Linked DNA regions of Homo sapiens. The protein of the gene in region 1 interacts with the protein of each later gene in a biochemical or structural test. Each region holds a gene or a part of one and is shown on either strand. Other genes may lie near its edges.

The links.
Region 2: the proteins of UBE2V2 (region 1) and SHPRH form a complex in vitro, tested with the Homo sapiens proteins (one study listed by BioGRID).
Region 3: the proteins of UBE2V2 (region 1) and RC3H2 form a complex in vitro, tested with the Homo sapiens proteins (one study listed by BioGRID).

Annotation. Positions count from the first base shown.
Region 1 is NC_000008.11:48,060,336-48,064,091, forward strand, and holds part of UBE2V2 (ubiquitin-conjugating enzyme E2 variant 2), read left to right. Parts: intron 1-346; coding exon 347-493; 3' UTR 494-3,756. UniProt on the Homo sapiens protein: Has no ubiquitin ligase activity on its own. The UBE2V2/UBE2N heterodimer catalyzes the synthesis of non-canonical poly-ubiquitin chains that are linked through 'Lys-63'. This type of poly-ubiquitination does not lead to protein degradation by the proteasome.
Region 2 is NC_000006.12:145,943,608-145,947,363, reverse strand, and holds part of SHPRH (E3 ubiquitin-protein ligase SHPRH), read left to right. Parts: intron 1-1,022; coding exon 1,023-1,131; intron 1,132-1,726; coding exon 1,727-1,983; intron 1,984-3,561; coding exon 3,562-3,756. UniProt on the Homo sapiens protein: E3 ubiquitin-protein ligase involved in DNA repair.
Region 3 is NC_000009.12:122,877,667-122,881,422, reverse strand, and holds part of RC3H2 (roquin-2), read left to right. Parts: intron 1-628; coding exon 629-829; intron 830-1,103; exon of another isoform or gene 1,104-1,210; intron 1,211-1,297; coding exon 1,298-1,430; intron 1,431-1,549; coding exon 1,550-1,668; intron 1,669-3,756. UniProt on the Homo sapiens protein: Post-transcriptional repressor of mRNAs containing a conserved stem loop motif, called constitutive decay element (CDE), which is often located in the 3'-UTR, as in HMGXB3, ICOS, IER3, NFKBID, NFKBIZ, PPP1R10, TNF and in many more mRNAs.

The DNA.
Region 1 (3,756 bases):
TCCCCAGATTTTGGGCGGTGGCATTGGAAATGGAGAGGAACCTTTTGACCTTACTCCATTAAGAAAGAATTGGTAAATTTATTGACAAAGTAGTTATTTAATATAACATTTATTTCTGATGACCAAAGTTCACTGTATGTTTTATGTCTTTATATTTTCCCAAAATATTAAACTAATTATGATAAAATATACTAATTATGGTATTAGTAATTCCATAGTGTATGTTTTGTGAAAATAGAGGCAAGCTATGAATTTTCAAAATCATTCTTATTAAAATATGCTTAACAAATTGGTGCCATAGTACTTTAAACTTGCTAGTTAACTGTACTCTTTCCTCCCCTTTCAGGTGGATGCCCGGAGCATACCAGTGTTAGCAAAATGGCAAAATTCATATAGCATTAAAGTTGTACTTCAAGAGCTAAGACGTCTAATGATGTCCAAAGAAAATATGAAGCTTCCACAGCCACCAGAAGGACAAACATACAACAATTAATTTTAGTGGATCTCAAACTTGTCTTAAATCAACAACCTTCTACTCATGTTAATGTCTTGATTAAATATCACAATGCAAAATACACATTAAGTAAAAGAATTCCAGCTGGTAAACATGACCTGGACATTTGTAAGAATATATTTAATATATGTACACCCATTATGTTTTCAGGTAACAGGAGGAAAAATGCAGCACAATTTTTTTTCTCTTGAAAGGCACTGTCATTTAAACATAAACCTGGAGTACTCGAAATAGAATTCAGGTTTACAAGATGAAAGCGTGTGGAGAAGTGTCAGATGGCAGTGGAAGCATGTGTGTTTCTAAAAAGTAAAAATCTCAAGAAAACAGAAATGGCATGCTTTACCCATCTTACTTAGTGAAAGAGAGCTGCAGTTGAAATTGTTTAAAAAGTAGCAGGTACAATGAATATTGTCACAGATGTGTTAATTTTTGAAGCAATGTGGGTGCTGACTACTAGTAGTATCAAAAATATGTTCAGGATTGTTTTGATACCTGTATTTATAATAAAAAATGTTGGGGGGAGTTGATGAATTCCTGTTAAAAGCTGTTCTTGTGTGTTACATGTAACAGACATGGTAAATATTTGTTTACAGTCTTTGTTTAACAAACCATGCATTTAAGTTTAAGTGAAGTCAACAAAAAGGAAATAGGTGTATGGATATGTGATTTTGAGATTAAAGTTAGTCTTAAAATGTAAATAAAATGTGAAACGTGTCCTCAGAGACTGTGCCATTTCTATTATGTTGATGTATATGTACAGTACCTTGCCAGGGAAGCAAAAATTGGAATTATTGTAGCTTTTCATGTATACACACTTTTATTTACCCTATTTTGTGTACTTCTTGTGAATTATAATTTGCAGACTATTTCAGAAAAGAAATTATCTAGTTTAATTTCTTCTTTGGACAAGGAGTCCTAGGTATTATATTTTGAGTTTGATTTCACCAGAAATAATAATATTAAAAAGATCTTTGCATTCTGGCAGTTCTTTTAGGATTATAGGTTGCAAATTATCCAAATATATATCCCATTTTTTAAAGCATAATATCTTTTTTAGTTGTTTTTCTGTGAAGCTTTTGGTTAATAAATAGGGTCAACTAATTGGAGACTTTTCTCTTCCAATTAGGGCTTTTAATACTAACAAGGATAACTTTATTCATTCCTCGTATTCTCTACTCTAACAAATATGAACTCTGAAGTTGAAAAGTCATTTATGTTCCGCTTTCACCAAAGTGACGTGAGGCTTTAGGTCACTGTTTCACTTCAAAGTACTGGATCCAAAGCTTTGTTGAAAATGCTGTTTGATGAATTCACTGAAGAATATAGAAAGGTGGTCAGGTAAAGTCTACTTTTATTTTGTCAAGCTTAATAATTTGTGTCATACTTTACCCCAGTATATATAGGCAAACCAAAACCTTATCAAATATTAAATTAGTTGTTTAAACTTTGCTTATAAAGTATTGGCCATGTGGTGGCTCATGCCGCTAATCCCAGCACTTTGGGAGGCTGAGACGGGCAGATCACTTGAGGTCAGGAGCTTGAGACCAGCCTGGCCAACATGATGAAACCCTGTCTCTACTAAAAATACAAAAAATTAGCCAGGTGTGGTGGTGGGTACTTGTAGTCCCAGCTACTCGGGAGGCTGGGCAGGAGAACTACTTGAAACTGGCAGACAGAGGTTGCAGTGCCGAGAGCGCACCACTGCTCCAGCCTGGGCAACAGAGCAAGACTCCATCTCAAAAAAAAAAAAAAAAAGAAAAATATTAATAATTGACCTTGGCTGTATATTAAAATAGTTACTTTTATAGTAGAGCACATTTCTCAAACATGCCCTGAAAGGCTTTTATCAAGCTCATATAAAGTTAAAGCTTTGAGCTACCTTTTCTTGGCCAATAAAGTCACTGACAGTTTATGTAAACATTAATTTCAACATGGCTGTTGCATTTTAATTATCAAAAATGTTTAAAATGCTTTAAGATGACACATAGAGAACATACACATACATACAAATTAGTGCATTTGTAATTTGTTAAATTTGAAATGAACTATTACCTTGAAATATAGTCTTTAAAAATTTTTAATGGTTAAAGATTAAATTGAATGAAACTGTAGTCTAATGGTAACTGATGATCTGAATCCGTCTCTCTGATAACCTCCTTTCCATTTTGAAAATGTGTCTTATTATACATGGAAGCTAGTAACTACGTGAATGCTGTTGGCAGGATGAGGGTCTGGGTACCTCAGTCTCTTGTCCTGTTTCCTTCCCCCAAATCCACCATTGTGAAGTTGCCAACCCCCTGCCGCCTTCCCCTGCCAAGTACATGTTGTCAGAGTCAGCCCTATAATGTTCATTTCCCCTCTTGTTTGTGGGATTATGGATCTCTGCAGAAATCTGCATGCCAATTAACCCATTTCTAAAGCAGAATCCATTTTGCATGTCACAATCAAGATGTACTTGGCAATCTAAGACACACTGGGAGACTGTAAGAGGAATTAATATAGAAAAGCTCTTAATTATAATAACATTTGGAAGAAATTTTTCCTTTGTTTTGTAAAGTGGCTAAGGTTGTAGGAGTGTGTGGTATTTATTACCTTTTAAATGAACTGTAAATTTGCCTTAGAAATTTGTTTAAAAGGCTAGCAAGTGAGACCCTTGAGGATGATCATATACTAATAAAGATTACCAAAAGAAACTTCTTGTCCTGTTAGGTCAGTGTTATGATTTAATGGTTTTAATTACTTAACCAATTTTAAGAATTGACAATTTTTAAAAATATTTTTTTCTACCATTCTAAAGTAATGTCTTTTGTTGTGGGTTTATGTGTAACTACAGGATTTTGGAACATAAACATTTTGAAGGATAGTCAATGGTATTTAGTCTTGGATATAAAAATAGAGAAAATTTATAGCTTTATGTTATTAAAATAATTTATCACACAGAGTGATTTGAGGTTTTCGCAGAGTAGATTTGTTTGACTCATGGTTTATTAGTCTGGATTACTTAAGAACAATATGTTGATTTTAATGTTAATTCCCACTAAATATATAATATTGATAAATACATGTGAAATTAATATTGTTTGGAAAATGTAGAGGACACAGCTGGGAATTATGAATGCTTTTTTCTTAATAGGTTTGGTGTGTGTGGCTTTGAATGGTTCTGCTGATGCATCATGGAAAGACAGCAGGGAACTGTAGCCTGCCATCAAAACTGTATCAACTCTTTTAATGAGCATGTGACT
Region 2 (3,756 bases), on another chromosome or scaffold:
GGTTAGTTAACTTCAAGTGGGCAGAGAGAATGGGGTGTTTGTGACCCAGAAGGTTTATTTTTGAAGTAATGTTGGCCAACTAGGAAGAGAATTTGTGATCACTTACTGAACTTTCTTCTAGTTGGCAGAGAAACTCCTTTACAAAAGTACTGTTGACTCCTCAAATGTTTTGTCACTAATAAAGTCTCCATATTACTACTAAATATTTTTAAGAGCTATTTAAAAATGTTATACAAATCTCATATATATAAATCTTAGAACCAAATAATTAGAACTTTGTTAAAGAACAAGTAGCTTAGTAAATAGATTGCTAAATGAAACAAACTTCAAGTCCTTGTCCCAAAATACATAATTGTGTTTAAAAATATAAATTTTAGAGTTACAGAAACAAAGTCCACTAAGGCAAATATAGTATATAGCTCATATTTTCTAGTAATGAAATCTGAAATCAGCCCTTACATTAAATCTTGCTGAAATGAAGTCAGTAGTTAAAGGTATAATTATAATTAATTACCTCTAGGACCCACCAGTCTCACAGCTTTAGCATTATGTTATCTTTCAGTAGGGTCAAGTTTGCAGAATTAGCCTTTCAGATTTGAGTAGAAAATTTAAAAAAAAAATGTTTTTTTTGTAGACAAATGACTTGGAATATATTGACTTAACTATCAGTAACTTCTTTCTGAGATTTCCTACTCATTACTATTTTAATTCCAAGTTATTTTCATATTATTATAAATTCAATGGGTTAATTTTATATTTAAATATACCTTTAAAAGTTAATTTCAGAGGTTCCACACATAACATTTAGGTAATTTAAGATAATATGCACAATTTTTTAAGTGATAGCTAGCTGTAAACTCAGAAATAAAACTGTGTATGTATCTACAGCTATTTGGCCCTTTCTCTTGCAATTTTTTTAGAACTGTTTTGCATTTCCATAAAGAAGGAAAGTTAATTTCAATAAGCAATTCAGAATACTGAAAGCAAAACACTGTGTAACTACTGACTGTTGTTTGTATCAGGGAAAAGTGGTGAATTATTTTATTCCGTCACATTATTTTGGAGGAAAACTGAAAAAGACAGAAATCCAGAATATCGAATTTGAACCAAAAGAAAAAGTTCAATGCCCTCGTAAGTAAGACATCTCTTAAAGGAAATACCTTCTTATAGTGATCTTTGCTAGAGTTCTTGCAATCCTTAGAGATATCTTGTAATTGTTATAAACAATTGTTTTTACAGTTATATATGCTTTTGATAAATGAATTCAATTACAAGTCATAATATCTTAACAAAAGTAAAGATGTATTATTTTGTTTGACTTGGCCCAGGTAGTTCTTGCTCAGTCTGTTATATTTAAATCTCTTTAGCTTACAGTTTAAACCAGGCTTTATTTATCTTTTAGGAAATGAATGTTTCGCATACTAATGGTAGCGTATACTTAAATAATTGTGAGAGTTTTCTTTTATAATTTTGAATGATTGTTTTATAGTATTAACAATTCAATATGAGTAATTCTTCCTTTGATTATTTTTATTACAGTAATTTGTTTCTTAATATGCTGAGATACATTTTTATTACATATTTTTTCAAAATGGCACTCTGCTGTAATAAATCTTTGATTTATTTCTTTCTTAACTCAGTCCTCATGCAGATTAAGATTAACCAAGTTTTACTTTCTTTTCATTTTAATTATTTTGACTGATTTAGCATATCCTTTTACATTTAGCTACACGTGTGATGATACTGACAGCTGTGAAAGAAATGAATGGAAAAAAAGGAGTGTCCATCCTTTCCATCTATAAGTATGTCAGTTCTATATATAGATACGATGTTCAACGGAACAGGAGTCTTTTGAAACGGATGCTGAAATGTTTAATTTTTGAAGGTCTCGTGAAACAGATCAAAGGCCATGGTTTTTCTGGGACTTTTACATTGGGAAAGAATTACAAGGAAGAGGATATATGTGATAAAACAAAAAAGCAGGTAACAGAGCTTAAGTTCAGCTCTATATTAAGTACACGTATGTGATACCTTACTGAGTACATTGACAGATCCCACCTTGAAACTGAAACTCTTACGATCTGAAGATAAAAAAATAGGAAAAGTACTTATATCTGTAACTTCTACTTTCTACTTTGTGGATATAAACTCCGTGAGAGTAACTTTACTTTGGCTATCATTAAACCTAGAGAATAATGCTTGGCACGTAACAAATACTCAGATATTTATTGAGTGAATTAAAAAACTAGTTGGCTAAGCGTATTATAGAGTATAAAGCATCTTCTGTATTATTTATTTTTATTATTTTTTTAAGACACAGGGCATCTATTGCCCTGGCTAGAATGCAGTGGTCATAGCTAGCTGCAGCCTTGAACTCCTGTGCCAAGCTGTCATCTTGCCTTAGCTTCCCAAGTAGTTGTGAGTACAGGCTCATGTCACCATGCCTGGTTAATTTTTCTTGTTTTTTTGTAGAGACGGGGTTCTCACTATGTTGCCCAGGCAGGTCTGGAACTTCTAAATTCTCATTTTCTTTATATTATTATCTTATACAATTTCTGCATTTTGTTAGAAAACTGCTTCTGTTGGGCCAGTAATTTCAATTTGCTTTTAGGAAAATAGTTATAATATTTGCAATCATAAATAAAGATTAATGACAACAAGTCAAAATGTGGAGCTACCAGCTCGGCCACCAAGAAAAAGACAAAAAATTTATTTTCTGGAGTAGGGAGTCTATATTATCCTTGGGTAGCACTGAAGACAGCAGTGAACTGTGCTTTTGGTAATCCTGCTACCACCAAAACTAGAAGATTTCCCTCAGTTAATGCCATTGATTACATGTTGTGTCTTAACTCCCCTGTTCGACCTCAGCCCTGATATGCCTTGGAGGAAGCTGTCCCTATTAACTACCTGCCTATCATACTCCCACTATGTTGTACAACCCTCTTAGGTATTCCCATAGCATCATTTTACTTTTTACTGTTCTCACTTTTCCAGTAGACCCCTTTGAAACCGGGGGCCAAATATTGTTCATATTTGTGTCCCTAGCATCTAACACAACTACTGGCACAGAATTGGCATTTAATAAGTAATTGTAAGAGAGGACATATGTAGAAAAGGGAAGGAAAGAAGGAATCAATTTGCTAATTGCAGTAACCAGTGGATTATCTTTTACTTTCTTTGGATGCTATATTTTAGTACTTGGTGTTTTTGTAGTTGCCCTGATTTGTATATTTATGTACTCGAAAAGTACTAGTCTTGTATTGATTTAGGTAGACTAAATCATAGTAGGTAAATAACAAAATATCAGTAGCTTCCTTTATCTTTCTAATTTTTCATCTCTCCAAATCTGACACTTGTAGAGCCTTCCTTTTGTTTTGAGATGAAGTGAGGGTCCTTACAGAGGGCAGATTGGAAGCCACTTATCAGGAGTGATTCTCCTCAGGGAAAAGGGTAGCAAAGACTGGCTGCTACATAATTATATGAAGTACTTACATAAAGTCAGGAGTTTAATTTCAGAAATGCAACTAGTTGCAATCAATTAATTAAATATTTTTTTCATAGGCAGTAGGGAGTCCAAGGAAAATTCAGAAAGAAACTAGAAAATCAGGGAACAAGGACACAGATTCTGAATACTTGCCATCAGACACCTCTGATGATGATGATGATCCTTACTATTATTATTATAAGTCCAGGAGAAATCGCAGTAAATTGAGGAAAAAGCTTGTTCCATCCACAAAAAAAGGAAAAAGTCAACCA
Region 3 (3,756 bases), on another chromosome or scaffold:
GCTGTGGTGCTATCTCAGCTCACTGCAACCTCTGCCTCCCGAGTAGGTGGGAGTACAGGCGCCTGCCACCACCATGCCTGACTAGTTTTTGTATTTTTTCTTGAGATGGGGTTTCGTCATGTTGGCCAGGCTGGTCTCAAACTCCTGACTTCAAGTGATCTGCCCACCTCGGCCTCTCAAAGTGCTGGGATTACAGGCATGAGCCACCATCCCTGGCCTCCTCACCTTTCTTTGCTCAGGAAACTCCTGTTTATTGTGCACAAATCAATTCATGTAGCTTTCAGCTGGGAGAAGCCTTTTCTGAAATCCCTTTCTTCTCCCTAATTTAATTCCCTTTCCTCTTTGTTGCCATCAAGCCTTATAACTTTTACTATAATTTTCTACTTACAAGTTTCTCTTTCTTACTAGTGGCTGAAATCATTGAAGGCAAGGATTATGTATTTAGTTATGTAAGTTCTGTTTTGTTCCAGAAAGAATTTGTGGTCAGGACATTATCTTATCTTTGTACCTTATTTCTGTGGTGTCTGATATGTAAGTATCCCCCACCCTCCCTGAAAAAGGAATAAACGAATCAGTTGAAGGGAGAAAGCACAGACCAATTCTGATTTTTCTCTTTTCTATTTTTTAGGTTACCAAAAGAGATGAAGACTCTTCCCTAATGCAGCTGAAGGAGGAATTTCGGAGTTATGAAGCATTACGCAGAGAACATGATGCCCAAATTGTTCATATTGCCATGGAAGCAGGACTCCGTATTTCACCTGAACAGTGGTCCTCTCTTTTGTATGGTGATTTGGCTCATAAATCACACATGCAGTCTATCATTGATAAGGTTTGTGAAATTAGAGATGCTGATGTTCTATCATTGCTGTTACATTGAAGAGTATTAGAATATTCTAAAGAGTCTATACACAAACAGTTGGAGATTCCTATGTTTTTAAATGTCAGACTCTTATAAATTATCCTTATTTTCTTTTTATTTTTCTACTTGCAAAATAAAGGGATGCAACAGGGAAACAAATACATGATACTAGCATAAAAGCAGTGAGGCTTACAAAGTCTCAAATTTATCTATATTCTGACCTCAGAGAGTTAATACAGCTTATAAGTTTTCTAAGTGTCTAATGATGAATTTCATAGGGCAGATTCTGAGGTGAAAATTTAATTCATCACTGATACTCCTACTGTGGAATCTGAAGACACTTGAAAACGTATTAAATATGTTGATAAATTGAAAGTATTTGAGTATAAATGTGTCATAAGAACCAAAGTAAAAAGCATTCTCATTTCTGTTTGTTAGCTACAGTCTCCAGAGTCATTTGCAAAGAGTGTCCAGGAATTGACAATTGTTTTGCAACGAACAGGTGACCCAGCTAACTTAAATAGACTGAGGCCTCATTTAGAGCTTCTTGCAAACATAGACCCTAATCCAGGTATGTGGGAATATGCTCAGTTGCTTATATTTTTTTCTACTTTTGAGGTGAATAACACAAGAGAATTACTGCTAACATTCTTCCCCCCCAACCCCCATGCCCTTGGTGGCTTATTTTAGACGCTGTTTCACCAACTTGGGAGCAGCTGGAAAATGCAATGGTAGCTGTTAAAACAGTAGTTCATGGCCTTGTGGACTTCATACAAAATTATAGTAGAAAAGGCCATGAGACCCCTCAGGTAAGTACATTTATTACATTTCTGACTGCTGTTGTCTCTAACTCAGTTTCATCCTGAACATCTTAACCAGCTGTTTTGTTAATTGGACTCCGTATGTGACTCATAAGTTTCTATCATCTCTATTCTTTTGGGAGGAACCCAGTTTTTAGTGTACTTGGTAAACATTTCATAGCACACCAAGAGTTTAGAGGGTATCTTGGGTGTGAGTATACTTTATTGCAGAATATTTTTGACCAAATGTAGATAATTGATTCCAAACGTTTTGTCTCATTCTTTTCTACTGTGGGAAATTGTCATTTTTTTTCTGTATTGAATTTCTATATGTAAATTTATGGAATTTGAATTTTCTTTCTTTTTTTTTTAGACAAAGTCTCACTCTGTCACCCAGGCTGGAGTGCAGTGACGCTATCTCAGCTCACTGCAACCTCTGCCTCCTGAGTTCAGGTGATTCTCCTGCCTCAGCCTCCCAAGTAACTGGGATTACAGGCAAGTGCCACCACGCCCTGCTAATTTTTGTATTTTTTGTAGAGAGGGTTTTACCATGTTGGCCAGGCTGGTCTCAAACTCCTGACCTCAGGTGATCTGCCCACCTCGGCCTCCCAAAGTGCTGGGATTACAGGCGTGAGCCATCGTGCCTGGCCGAAATTTGAATTTTCAAGATACTTTTCAGTGTACTTTAGAAGTTAAGATATAAACCTGGCCAGGCACAGTGGCTCACGCCTGTAATCCCAGCACTTTGGGAGGTTGAGGTGAGTGGATCACTTGAGGCCAGAAGTTCGAGACCAGCTTGGCCAACATGGTGAAACCCCATCTCTACTAAAAAAAAAAAAATACAAAAATGAGCCAGGCATTGTGGTGGATGCCTGTAATCCCAACTACTGAGACGGCTGAGTCAGGAGAATCGCTTGAACCCGGGAGATGGAGGCTACAGTGAGCCGAGATCGCGCCACTGCACTCCAGCCTGGGCGACAGAGTGACTCTTGTCTCCAAAAATATAAAATAAAAAGAAGTTAAGATATAATCCTTTATACTTATAACTTCTATTTAATAAATTATTATGAGCCATTCACTACATTCAATGTTTTACATGTATTATTTCTTATCCTCACAGCCACCTGCAATGTAGTTGCTGTTTCCAAGCTGAAATTCAAAGAGGTTAAATAACATAAGATTGTGCTGTCAGGGGGCTGGGCGCGGTGGCTCATGTCTATAATCCCAGCACTTTGGGAGGCTGAGGCGGGCGGATCACAAGGTCAGGAGATCGAGACCATCCTGGCTAACATGGTGAAGCCCCATCTCTACTAAAAATACAAAAAATTAGCCGGGCGTGGTGGCAGGCGCCTGTAGTCCCAGCTACTTGGGAGCTCTCTGAGGCAGGGAGAATGGCCTGAACCCGGGAAGTGGAGCTTGCAGTGAGCTGAGATGGCGCCACTGCACTCCAGCCTGGGCAACAGAGCAAGACTCCGTCTCAAAGATAAAAATAAAAAATAAAAAAGGTTGTGCTGTCAGTAAGAGCTGGGATCAAACCTACACTTTGTACTCTTCTCTCCTTATTCTTAGAAGATATTATAACTTAAAATATTAAAAACAAATGTTTTCATCCTAGGCTCATAAGAATAAGAATGTCTTAGATTTTGATGCAAATTGTAGAAGTAATAGTGAAATTTTAATATTCTGCCTCATTGTATGAACTCAAATAGTTTAAGCCTGAGAGTTGCACCCTCAAGCTGACAAGTGAATTGGTAATTTTTCACTTCTAGGTGGAATTGTATTCTACCTTTTCTGAGAAAGTTTAAGTAGACAAAGCTTTTGGTTTTTTTTTAATGCTTTTTAAAATTGTTTGATTTTGGTAGCAGAATTTTAAGACAGCAATAAATTGATGAAAAAATATTTTCTTTTTCTGGGCATTCTGTTAACTAATGAATAAATGGACATAACATTTGAACCAGTTTCGAATAATCTTCAGAAGGAATATCTGAAGTGCCAATTCAGGGTTATGTCACATAACTCACAACAGGAAACAATGGAATATTAGTTGTTTCAGCACAAGAATTACTTGTCTAATGTGAAAAAGAATTAAAGGTGTAA